Linked DNA regions of Homo sapiens. The protein of the gene in region 2 interacts with the protein of the main gene of each other region in a biochemical or structural test. Each region holds a gene or a part of one and is shown on either strand. Other genes may lie near its edges.

Region 1 (5,619 bases), on a different chromosome or scaffold from region 2:
GCCCTAACTTATTCATTATATTTTATTTTTGAAAATCAGGGTCTCCCTTCCGCCCACATATACACAAAAACATGACTTGATTTTAGCAGTTGGATATCTTTGTCCTGAGGTGAGAAATTGGAGTGTCACTGGCACAGGGATAGAGGGACAACAGAGGGTGGGTGACAGTGTGGGCTGCTGCCAGCATAGTGACTGTTTCTTCTCTCTGCTTTGCTCTCTCCCCAGGCTGCCCTGGAGTCCCAGCGAAGGCTTGAGGAAAGGCAGAGTGGCCTGGCTTCTCGAGCGGCCAACGGGGAGGTGGCATCTCTCCGCAGGGGCCCTGCCCCCTTGAGAAAGGCTGAGGGCTGGCTCCCACTGTCAGGAGGTCAGGGGCAGAGTGAGGACTCAGACCCGCTCCTCCAGCAGATCCACAACATCACATCATTCATCAGGCAGGCCAAGGCCGCGGGCCGCATGGATGAAGTGCGCACTCTGCAGGAGAACCTGCGGCAGCTGCAGGACGAGTATGACCAGCAGCAGACAGAGAAGGCCATCGAGCTGTCCCGGAGGCAGGCTGAGGAGGAGGACCTGCAGCGGGAACAGCTGCAGATGTTGCGTGAACGGGAGTTGGAACGAGAAAGGGAGCAGTTTCGGGTGGCATCCCTGCACACACGGACTCGGTCCCTGGACTTCAGAGAAATCGGCCCTTTTCAGCTGGAGCCCAGCAGAGAGCCTCGCACCCACCTTGCTTATGCTTTGGATCTAGGCTCTTCCCCAGTTCCAAGCAGCACAGCTCCCAAGACCCCTTCACTTAGCTCAACTCAACCCACCAGAGTGTGGTCTGGGCCCCCAGCCGTTGGCCAGGAGCGCTTACCCCAGAGCAGCATGCCACAGCAACATGAGGGGCCCTCCTTAAACCCCTTTGATGAGGAAGACCTCTCCAGCCCCATGGAAGAGGCCACTACTGGTCCTCCTGCTGCAGGGGTTTCCTTAGACCCTTCAGCCCGCATCCTGAAAGAGTACAATCCTTTCGAGGAAGAGGACGAGGAGGAGGAAGCAGTGGCAGGGAATCCATTCATTCAGCCAGACAGCCCAGCTCCTAACCCCTTCAGTGAGGAAGACGAACATCCCCAGCAGAGGCTCTCAAGCCCTCTGGTTCCTGGTAACCCCTTTGAGGAACCCACCTGTATCAACCCCTTTGAGATGGACAGTGACAGTGGGCCAGAGGCTGAGGAGCCCATAGAGGAAGAGCTCCTCCTGCAGCAGATCGATAACATCAAGGCATACATCTTTGATGCCAAGCAGTGCGGCCGCCTGGATGAGGTAGAGGTGCTGACAGAGAATCTGCGGGAGCTGAAGCACACCCTGGCCAAGCAGAAGGGGGGCACTGACTGACCAGCAGTGGAGAGGGCACCTTTGGGCCCAGGGGTCTGGCAGGAGCCAGTGGAGCAGGACAGAGGGCAGGCAGGATGGATGGGGAAGGTGGCAGGGTGAGAACTCAGATGCACACAGGTGAGGGGCAGGAATCTGCTGTTTTGTGTTGCGCACTTTGAGGTATTTCCACTACAGTTGAATAATAAAATAGAAACTAGAACAGGGAGAATCAGCATTCAGTTGCTGCTTTTCCTGTTTATTATTACTATCTTTTGTAATCGGAGGTTTACCCCTTTTGAAGGGACTTTACATTTTTACTACCGAGATATAACTAAATGCAGCTCTGTTGGGCCCAGGGCAGAAATGGCTGCTGTGTACCTCTTGGGTCCATTTGCTACTGCCTAGTCTTGGTTCCTTATGCAGTATTATAGGGCAGCCTTTTTAGAGCCCTTCCTTTAGCCAAGACAGAGAAGATAGATTCCACTGAGCTCTATTCTGCTCTGACAGAAGTCCATCCCTAGTAGGCTGTGAGTTCCATTTCACCTGGGGCCGCCTCTCCCCTGCTCTGCACTTCCTGTCTGTACAATAGAAGGGGGAGGTGCTGCTATGAAGGGGAGAGTTTAGACCCAGGAGAGCCCAGCACCTCTTTTTAAGGTGGGGTGATGGGAATATTTCACCAGGGTCTATTTTCTCAGTTTAAGTTCTTTTTTGTCTCTTTCAGGAAGTTAAGCTCCCAGTGCAGGGTATCAATGTGAATCTGGTCCTGAGCTTTTTAGAAAATAAGAGTGGTGGCCGGGCGCGCTGGCTCACGCCTGTAATCGCAACACTTTGGGAGGCCGAGGCAGGCAGATCACAAGGTCAGGAGATCGAGACCACCCTGGCTAACACAGTGAAATCCCGTCTCTACTAAAAATACAAAAAATTAGCCAGGCGTGGTGGTGGGTGCCTGTAGTCCCAGCTACTTTGGAGGCTGAGGCAGGAGAATGCTGTGAACCCGGGAGGCAGAGCTTGCAGTGAGCCGAGATCGCACCACTGCACTCCAGCCTGGGCAGTGAGAGTGAGACTCCGTCTCAAAAAAAAATAAGAGTGGTTAACTTTTTGGTTGATATTAGTATTATTTGTGAGAAGAGTTTCCCCACCCTTCTTCTGATAGAACAATTGTCTGTCACTGGAGAAATCTCCCTCCAGAGCTTTGGCAAAGTTACTCTGATCTGGGTCTGTTTAAAAGGCCGGGTCTCTAATTTAGGAATCGGTGATTTGGAAGCTTTTGCAGAACATCACCAGAAGAAGGGAAGCTTCCCAGAGTCAGAAGCTAAATTAAAATAATTTCCAAGGCTATTTGATCAGCCTTCTTCCTTTTTGGTTCATTGTGTCCTGACTTGGGGCACTGATGAGATTTTTTATTTTTTTTGAGACAGAGTTTCACTTTGTTGCCCAGGCTGGAGTGTAGTGGCATGATCTCAGCTCACTGCAACCTCCACCTCCCTGGTTCAAGTGATATTTGTGCCTCAGCCCCCTGAATAGCTAGGATTACAGGCGTGGGCCACCACGCCTGGTTAATCTCTGTATTTTTAGTAGAGGTAGAGTTTCACCATTTTGGCCAGGCTGGTTTCGAACTCCTGGCCTCAAGTGATCTGCCACCTTGGCCTCCCAAAGTGCTGGGAATACAGGCGTGAGCCACTGTGCCCGCCCTGATGAGATATTTTATTACCAATGTTAGTATTGAGAAACTGAAATGTTTGAAGAAGCACAACCCAGGATCGTGCTGGTAGCACCACAGTACTTAAACTGTTGGTCAATTAAGGCCAGAAAGGGAAATTGTTAATTTAGCTCTGGTGCTTTGGTTTACAGGAACATAACTCTTAACTGACATCTGACATCATGATAGCCATATGTGCTCAGCTCTGGGTAGAGTTTCTGCAGTTACTCATCTGAACTAATGAACAATAACTGACCACTAGTCACTTTATGCCGTGTAACTAGCTCTAGGCCATACTTTCACTGGTTACTGGTGTGAAAGCTGAAATTCATTTTGTTACATTCTGGTGAAGACCCCTCTTGATAATGGGAATGTTTTAACTCTCTTGATGAAAAAATAATCTGTATTTGTGTTGATGTTCACATTTCTGTAGCACATTTCTTATCCTTTTGGTTGAATGAAAAGATCTTGTATAGGGGTGTGGAGATGGGGAGTGGGTAGAAGTGTGTGAAGGACGCTTTGCATTTGGGATCTGTTCACAAACAGCCATATGAGTGTGTTAATGAATGTCAGCCAGTTACCAACCCTGCTGGTTGTTATGGGTTGTTTTGAGAAGTTGGCAACCAGGCATCTAAGATGTTGCCTGGTACAGGCCTCTTTTCTTCCCTGAGGCCCATGACATTTCTCTGTTACTCTAGAGGGTTTCTCAGATGGCCAGTAGGCTCCTCCCTGCTTAGGGTCTCATTTCTCTGAAAAGAGGATGAACTGAAAAGCAGGTAGTTCCAGAAGCTAATTGCTGCTTTCCATCATAATTATTTTTCTTGTGAGAACATTTCTCTTTTAATTAGCTAGTGATTTTGATTAAGACTAATTCACTAAACATACCCTTCCCTCAAATCACCTCAGGTAGCAATCTGTAAGTAACTAAAAGCATTGAAAAACACACAAGAAACATTTTTAAAAACTATTTTTAAAGGCCTGGCCGGGTGCAGTGGCTCACTCCTGTAATCCCAGCACTTTGGGAGGCCGAGACGGGTGGATCACCTGAGGTCAGGAATTTGAGACTAGCATGGCCAACATGGTGAAACCCCGTGTCTACTAAAAATACAAAAATTAGCTGGGCGTGGTGGCAGACGCCTGTAATCCCAGCTACTCAGGGAGGCTGAGGCACGAGAATCGCTTGAACCTGGGAGGCGGAGGTTGCAGTGAGCCAAGATTGCGCCACTGCACTCCAACCTGGGTGACAAGAGCAAGACTCCGTCTCACAAAAAACAAACAAAACTGACTGATTGAATATACTAAACCAAACTAAAATCATATTCTTTTGATTAAGTTTATCCATGGCTGTATTCTTCTATGAATTCTTCCATTTAATTCTTCCACGATTATCTTCTCCTGTAAATACATCACAGGAGTTAGAATTCTCTACCCATCAGCTGTACCATGTCGCAGAATTCATGCAGGCACAAAGTTGGAGTTACAGAGATGGGTTGACAGCAGGCAAACTTGGCCTATGTATTATAACCACAACTTCAAGTTCTTACCTCATGTGAATATTCACCCTTTCTTTAGTCTTCCAAGGCAAACAGCCCCGTCTCATCACCAGATGAGCAAGGTCTTGATATGGCATAGCAGATCTCCCTAGACACAGATCATGAGAAAAGATGGAAGAGACTTAGGGATTCAGGCATCAGATGAAGTTGGCTTTTCCCTTTTATGCCTTGTTTGTATTTACCCTGTCTAATACACTAAGGATACTTACTCATTGTACTTGCAGCTCAATATGTCTTTGCTGTTCAGATACTAAAATGTACCTCTGAGTCATTGTGAGCTGTGTGGTAGGTTGGACATTGGCATAGTTGGTGATGGGACTCAAAATGAAAAGGTGGTCTCTTTACCAGGTCACAGACTGTAGCAGATTGTGCTTGTTATCTGACAATGACTGTCACTTTGAGGGTCGTTGATTTGCATGCACTACTCTGGGGCCTTGTATTGGAGCCTTTTTTAAAAAAAATAAAATCTGAGATAGAGGTTGGGGGTGTGTGTGTCTGTGTGCACATGTGTTACAAGTGAGAATCATCAGATGACATCCCTTCTCCTTTCTTGATGACAACCATCTGAGTATCAGAATAGTTCCAGCACCTGTGTTGTTTGTCTGGTTAAGGCCTCTGGAAAAAATGAAGGTCACTGGGTTCTGAACAGGGGATAGATACGGGTTCCAGTTCTGCCCTTATTCCCAGTTATTCCTGCAGTGCTGGTTAAATGAACAGTTTTACAGAAGTATAGTGCAGATCCCTTAATGATCCTATCATCCCAGTTTCACACTGGAAGAAACTGAGGCTCAGAGATTGAGGAACCTTGTGACTGCCATCTGTGCCAGTCACCACCTCTGCATGACCACATTTCCCTCCATTAGCACTACCAGCATGCCTGTGAGGTAGTTACTCAGCTGTTCATCTGACCCCAGACGTAGAAAAGTTAAGAGAGATTAGCCTGGCTTAGGCCACACAGCCAGTCAGTGGTGGAATGAGGGTTTAAATCCAGATCTGCCTGACTTAATTTGCCCT
Region 2 (7,043 bases):
CATCTCTACTAAAAAAAATACAAAAAAATTAGCCGGGTGTGGTGGCGCGCGCCTATAGGCCTGTAGTCCCAGCTACTCGGGAGACTGAGGCAGGAGAAAGGCGTGAACCCGGGAGGCGGAGCTTGCAGTGAGCCGAGATTGCGCCACTGCACTCCAGCCTGGGCGATGGAGTGAGACTCCATCTCAAAAAAAACAGAAAAAGAAAAAATAATTTAGTAACTCATGTAGCTACTCCGCCCTCAACAAGGGGAACATGAACATAAGTCCCTGTTCCTTAGGTGTGGGCTACACAGTGACTTTCTTCCAAAGGGTGCATGCAGCATGGAAAGGGGAAGGGGAGAACAACTTTACAGAGAAGCCTCACACACATCACCTCAGCCAAGTGATCATGGTTGACATCAGTCATGGAAAGGCTTGTGGATTGTATGTACCCTTGACATGATGTGATGAAAATAGCACTTTACCTCTCTGGTCCTCCTTCCCAAAACTTGGCACAGTCTACTTATGAAAAAAACACTGGACACAGCCAGGCGTGTTAGCTCACGCATGTAATCCCACCACTTTGGGAAGCTGAGGTGAGCAGATCGCTTGAGCTCAGGAGTTTGAGACCAGCCTGGACATCATGGTGAAACCTTGTCTCTACAAAAATTAGCCAGGCGTGGTGGTGCATTTCTGTAGTCCCAGCTACTTGGGAGGCTGAGGAGAATGGCTTGAGCCGAGATTGCACCACTGCACTCCAGCCTGGCTGACAGAGCAAGACTCTGTTAAAAAGAGAAAAATACTGGACAAATCCCAGTTGAGAAGAGATTCTCTTTATTTTTTATTATTTTTTTTGAGACGGAGTCTCATTCTGTCTCCAGCCCAGGCTGGAGCACAGTGACACGATGTTGGCTCACTGCAACCTCTGCCTCCTGGTTCAAGCGATTCTTGTGCCTCAGCCTCCTGAGTAGCTGAGATTACAGGTGCGTACCACCATGCCTGGCTAATTTTTGTATTTTTAATAGAGATGAGGCTTCACCATGTTAGCCAGGCTGGTCTCGAACTCCTGACTTCAAGTGATCCACCCACCTCGGCCTCCCAAAGTGCTGGGATTACAGGCGTGAGTCACCGCGCCTGGCCGAGATCCTCTTTAGATGCTTGCCCAGCACTCCTCAAAACTGTCAAGGTCATCAAAAACAATAAAAGTCTGAGAAACTGGCACAGCAAGAGGAGCCTAAAGAGACAATGAATATAGGTAACATGGGATCCTGGAACAGCAAAAGGACATCAGGTAAAAATCTAAGGAAATCTGAATAAAGGATGGACTTTAATGTAAAATACGTACTAACATAAGATGTTAATAACAGGGAAAACTATGTGTGAGGGATTGTGAGAAAACTCTGTACTATCTGCGTAACTTTTCTAAAAGTATTCTGAAAGAATAAGTTTATTAAGCCTCGGCAACATAGGGAGACCCCGTCTCTACAAAAAAATCAAAAATTGCCCAGGCACAGTGGCTCACACCTGTAATCCCAGCACTTTCAGAGGCCAAGGCAGGCAGACCACAAAGTCAAGAGATCAAGACCATCCTGGCCAACATGGCGAAACCCCGTCTCTACTAAAAATATAAAAATTAGCTGGGCATGGTGGCGTACGCCTGTAGTCCCAGCTACTCGGGAGGCTGAGGCAGGAGAATCACTTGAACCCAGGAGACGGAGGTTGCAGTGAGCCAAGATGGCATCACTGCACTCCAGCCTGGGAAACAGAGCAAGACTCCATTTCAAAAGAAAAAAAAAAAAGGAGGCCAAGGTAGGCGGATCACGAGGTCAGGAGATGGAGACCATCCTGGTTAACATGGTGAAACTCTGCCTCTACTAAAAGTACAAAAAATTAGCCAAGCGTGGTGGCAGGAGCCTGTAGTCCCAGCTACTCGAGAGGCTGAGGCAGGAGAATGGCATGAACCCGGGAGCTTGCAGTGAGCCGAGATCGTACCACTGCACTCCAGCCTGGGCGACAAGGCAAGACTTCGTCAAGAAAGAAAGAAAGAAAGACAGAAAGAAAGACAGAAAGACAGAAAGAAAGACAGAAAAAGAAAGAAAGAAAGAAAAAGAAAGAAAGAAAGAAAGAAAGAAGGAAAGACAGAAAGAAAGAAAGAAACAGAAAGAAAGAAAGAAAGAAAGAGAGAGAGAGAGAGAGAGAGAGAGAAAGAAAGAAAGACCAGCCTCAAGGTGAGCAGAGGATATCCAAGTACTGCAGGCACAGGACCAGGGAATGTTAAAGACCCCATCTGTGGAATACACATGTGAGGGCTGCTCATACCACTGGTCTGAACAGCTGCTGCCACCACTTTTTTAAGCCACCTTCACTCAGGAACGAGCCTTGTGCAGACATACAGAACAGTATCCACAGGCAGAGTCAAATTTGCTTCCACTGATCCTTGCTAAGTACTGGTCTGGGGTCGGTGCTGCCTCACCACACACAACTGCAGAAGCACGGTCGTTCTGTCCTGCCATCAGATACACACACGGCAGAAGCCAGTCAGCCGGACTGTGGCTAGTCAGGGCCGCGCCCTCATTGTCCCATTAAACCCTTCACCAGAAATGGAGATTTGGAGAGTCTTAACTTCTGGAAACTGAGTTTGTGACTTGCTTCCCATCATCCGTACTGTAACATTGATCCTATTGACCTGTTTGCTCTCCCATTTGTCTGTGAGCAACTTTCTGGGGGATGGACCAAAGATATGGCTCAAGCTGTGGGATCAGATGGATTTAAGTTTGAATCATAGGTTCACGACATCCAAAGTGTGTGAAGAAAGGAAGGGAAGTGTGTGTTAAAAGAAGTGGGCGAGGGCCAGGCATGGTGGCTTACACCTGTAATCCCAGCACTTTGGGAGGCCGAGGCGGGTGGATCACCTGAGGTTGGGAGTTCGAGACCAGCCTGACCAACATGGAGAAACCCCATCTCTAATAAAAATACAAAAAATTAGCCGGCCGTGGTGGCACATGCCTGTAATCCCTGCTACTTGGGAAGCTGAGGCAGGAGAATCTCTTTAACTCGGGAGGCGGAGGTTGTGGTGAGCTGAGATTGTGCCATTGCACTCTAGCCTGGGCAACAAGAGCAAAACTCTGTCTCAAAAACAAACAAAAAAAAAGAAGTGGGCAAGGCTGGGCACAGTGGCTCATGCCTGTAGTCCCAGCACTGGGAGGCTGAGGCAGGCAGATCATGAGGTCAGGAGTTTGAGATCAGCCTGGCCAACATGGTGAAATCCGTCTCTACTAAAAATACAAAACTAGATGGGCGTGGTGGTACACACCTGTAATCCCAGGTACTAGGGAGGCTGAAGCAGGAGAATCACTTGAACCCAGGAGGCGGAGGTTACAGTGAGCAAGATCGTACCATTGCACTCCAGCCTGGGTGAGAGGTCAAGACTCCATCTCAAAAAAAAAAAAAAAAAAAAAAAGAAGTGGGCAGGTGTTTGGTGTTTGCTTTAAGGGCAGGTTTGAATGTCTGCCCTCTCCTTTAACAACTTCAGTAGGGAGCCTACTATGCTGAGTGCCATGCCAGGTCCTAAACACACAAAGATCAAACAGGACCCGATCTGTGCCCCTAAAGGGCTCACCCACCAGAGAATGAGGCAAATAAGGAACAATGAGATAGCAGTTGAGAAGACAGCCCATGTAGGAGACAAGCCCTCAGCCCATTTGGGGCAAGGGAAGGCTTCACAGAGGAAGTGGCATTCAAACTGAGCTTTGAGAGAAAAGTAGGGAGATACAGTTTCCAGGCACGTGAGGTGCAGAAGAGCCTTCTAGGCAAAGTGAACAGTAGGCATTTAGCCCAGAGATGGGTCAAGGAGAGGCTGTATTGAATAGCGATAAGAGCACACCCCATCTCTGCCATTACTACATAGTCCCCCACTCTAACATGGGGATTAAACACAGAACCTACCTCCTGGGGTTGTCGGAGGATTAAAGGAGTCAACACATAGGGCTCACAAGAGTGCCTGGCACATGGCAAAAATAGAAGTTTAGCTTTTATTTGTATTACTGTTCTTATACATAGAGGATGGGGCTATTTAATTGGAAAAGTAATCTCTTACAATACCAAGCTATTAATGCAGAGGATGCCAAAAATATTCCGATTCTCCTCTGCCAAGGTTTTTGCAAGCATGATTACCTGGATTTTGGCACATCCTAGTTTATAAATTCTACCTAAAGCAGTGCTTCTCAAACAGCCCCAACATATGTACCCTTCACTCAAGTCAGGGGAGAGGAAACTCCCAGAAATCTGGGAGTTGAACCCAAAGCAGCTGGCTACAAGCAAAATACTGTCTTTGGCCAGGTGCAGCGGCTCATGCCTGTAATCCCAGCACTTCGGGAGGCCAAAGTAGGAGGATCACTTGAGCCCAGGAGTTCTGAGACCAGCCTGGGCAACATGGCAAAACCCTGTCTCTACTAAAAATACAAAAACTAGCCGGGCATGGTGGTACATGCCTACAGTCCCAGCTACTCAGGAGGCTGAGGTGGGAGGATCACTTGGGTCCACAAGATCAAGGCGGAAGTAAGCCATGATCGTCCCACTGCACTCCAGCCTGGGTGAGAGAGGCCCTGTCTCAAAAATAAATAAATTAATTAATTAATTAAAGTTTCCTGTGTTAGCTTCAATTCATGCAAACTTTGCATTCTAATCTATAATAGTTACAGGACTGTTTTAATATTAAAACGCTTACAACTAAGTAAAACTGAAGTGGCACAGCGTTCTCTTCTGTAAAATGGGAATACAACCCACATCAATTCTGTTCAATGTCTACAAAATGAGACAATTTGTGAAACCATCAAGCAATGTACAAGGCATCCCAGCAGACATTTTGTTTTTGTTTTAGACATGGGGTCTCATTATGTTGCCCAGGCTGGTTTTTTTTTTTTTTTTTTTTGAGATAGACTCTTGGTCTGTTGCCCAGGCTGGAGTGCAGTGGTGCAATCTCGGCTCACTGCAACGTCCACCTCCCAGGTTGAACTGCCTCCCAGGTTCCTGCCTAAGCCTCCCAAGTAGCTGGGATTACAGGCATGTGCCACCACGCCTGACTAATTTTGGTATTTTTAGTAGAGATGGGGTTTCACCATGTTGGCCAGGCTGGTCTCGAACTCCTGACTTCAGGTGATCTCCCAGCCTCAGCCTTCCAAAGTGCTAGGATTATAGGCGTGATCCACCACACCTGGCCCCCAAGCTGGTCTTGAACTCCTGGGATCAAGCGATCCTCCCAAAGTGCTAGGATTATAGGCATGAGCCACTGTGCCCAGCCCCAGCATACATTTGGTACACATGTTGAATCAGAATCAGTGTTGAGGCTGGGCACAATTACCTGAGGTCAGGAGATCGAGACCAGCCTGGCCAACATAGAGGAACCCTGTCTCTACTAAAAGTACAAAAATTAGCTGGGCATGGTGGCACACGCCTATAATCCCAGCTACTCAGGAGGCTGAGGCAGGAGAATAGCTTGAGCCCGGGAGACAGAGGTTGCAGTGAGCCAAGATCACGCCATTGCACTCCAGCCTGGGAGACAAGAGTGAAACTCCATCTCAAAAAAAAAAAAAAAAAAAAAAAAAAAAATCAGCCAGACACGGTGGCTCATGCTTGTAATCCCAGCACTCTGGGAGGCCGATGAGGCGGGCAGATCACCTCACCTGAGGTCAGGAGTTTGAGACCAGCCTGGCCAACATGGTCAAACCCCATCTCTACAAAAATACCAAAAAAAAAAATTAGCCGGGCATGATGGCAGGTGCCTGTAATCCCAGCTACTCAGGAGGCTGAGGCAGGAGAATCGCTTGAACACAGGAGGCGGAGGTTGCAGTGAGCCTGGGCAACAGAATGAGAATGAGACTGCCTCAAAAAAAAAAAGAACCTTCAAACCCCTACCTACCCATCAGAGGCAACTGCTATTTTGTGGGCATCCAGTCTGCCAGCACTGGACTAGCTCCTTTCTTTGTTTCTAATTCTGCAAGGTATTTAGCATCCCCATTTTACCAGAAGAAACACAGGCTCAGTGAGGTCAAGTAACAAGCCCAGGGTCACACAACTGGTAAGTGGGGGAATCAGGATGAGAACTCAGGTCCAACTGCCTCTGAAGTTCTAGTGCCTTCCACCCGACCACACTGCCTGTTTACTGGGCAAGGGTTAGAAGTAGAAGGTCTGGCCAGGCGCAGTGGCTCACGCCTGTAATCCCAGCACTTTGGGAGGCCAGGGTGGGCGGATCACGAGGTCAGGAGATCGAGACCATCCTGGCTAACACGGCGGAACCCCATCTCTACTAAAAATACAAAACAATTAGCCGGACGTGGTGGTGGGCACCTGTAGTCCCAACTACTCTGGAGGCTGAGGTAGGAGAATGGCATGAACCCGGGAGGCGGAGCTTGCAGTGAGCCAAGATCGCACCACTGCACTCCAGCCTAGGCGACAGAGCGAGACTCCGACTCAAAAAAAAAAAAAGAAGTAGAAGGTCTAAGAAGTACTTGCTTGGTGGGGCTGAATTTAAATGTATGATCTTGCTCTGTTTCCATGTAAATTCTAGTGACAGGAGCTCCTGGTGGCAAGCCACATTCTTCCCACTTGCAAGCAGCAGGCAGCACCACAGGAGAAACAGAGGACTAACCAGAGGCCCGCTCTGTTGCTTCCCCCTTAACCCTGCCCAGTGGGACCCCTGAGTTTACTCACTTTAACTTTCATTTTCTAGCCATTAGGACTTTCAGGTTCCCAGAAAAATTAATGACATGTAGATGTCAGCAAACTCTCAGGCCCTGAAGAGTACTGACTTGGGACTCCTAACTGTTTTGGTCCTCAGAGGCAGAGGTGAAAGGGGTCAAGAGAGAAGACAGGAGGTCGGGTAGACGCTGGGGAAGACAAAAAAACAGAGGAGCGCTAGTGATGAGGAGGGCTAAAGAGTTAAGAGTCTGCCCTTGTGCCGTGGCGCACTCAGTCTGCATGTTCATTCATTTAACGAACAAACCAGGCCGAAGAAGGGCCCACTGTTAGATCAGGTCACATCTGACCCCAAATCCAAGCCCCAGCTC

The links. The genes of interacting proteins can lie anywhere in the genome.
Region 1: the proteins of RAB5C (region 2) and RBSN form a complex in vitro, tested with the Homo sapiens proteins (2 studies listed by BioGRID and IntAct, with this or other methods).

What each region holds. Positions count from the first base shown.
Region 1 is NC_000003.12:15,069,537-15,075,155, reverse strand, and holds the end of RBSN (rabenosyn-5), read left to right. Parts: intron 1-225; coding exon 226-1,374; 3' UTR 1,375-5,083; downstream 5,084-5,619. UniProt on the Homo sapiens protein: Rab4/Rab5 effector protein acting in early endocytic membrane fusion and membrane trafficking of recycling endosomes. Required for endosome fusion either homotypically or with clathrin coated vesicles.
Region 2 is NC_000017.11:42,144,988-42,152,030, forward strand, and holds part of RAB5C (ras-related protein Rab-5C), read right to left. Parts: intron 1-7,043. UniProt on the Homo sapiens protein: The small GTPases Rab are key regulators of intracellular membrane trafficking, from the formation of transport vesicles to their fusion with membranes.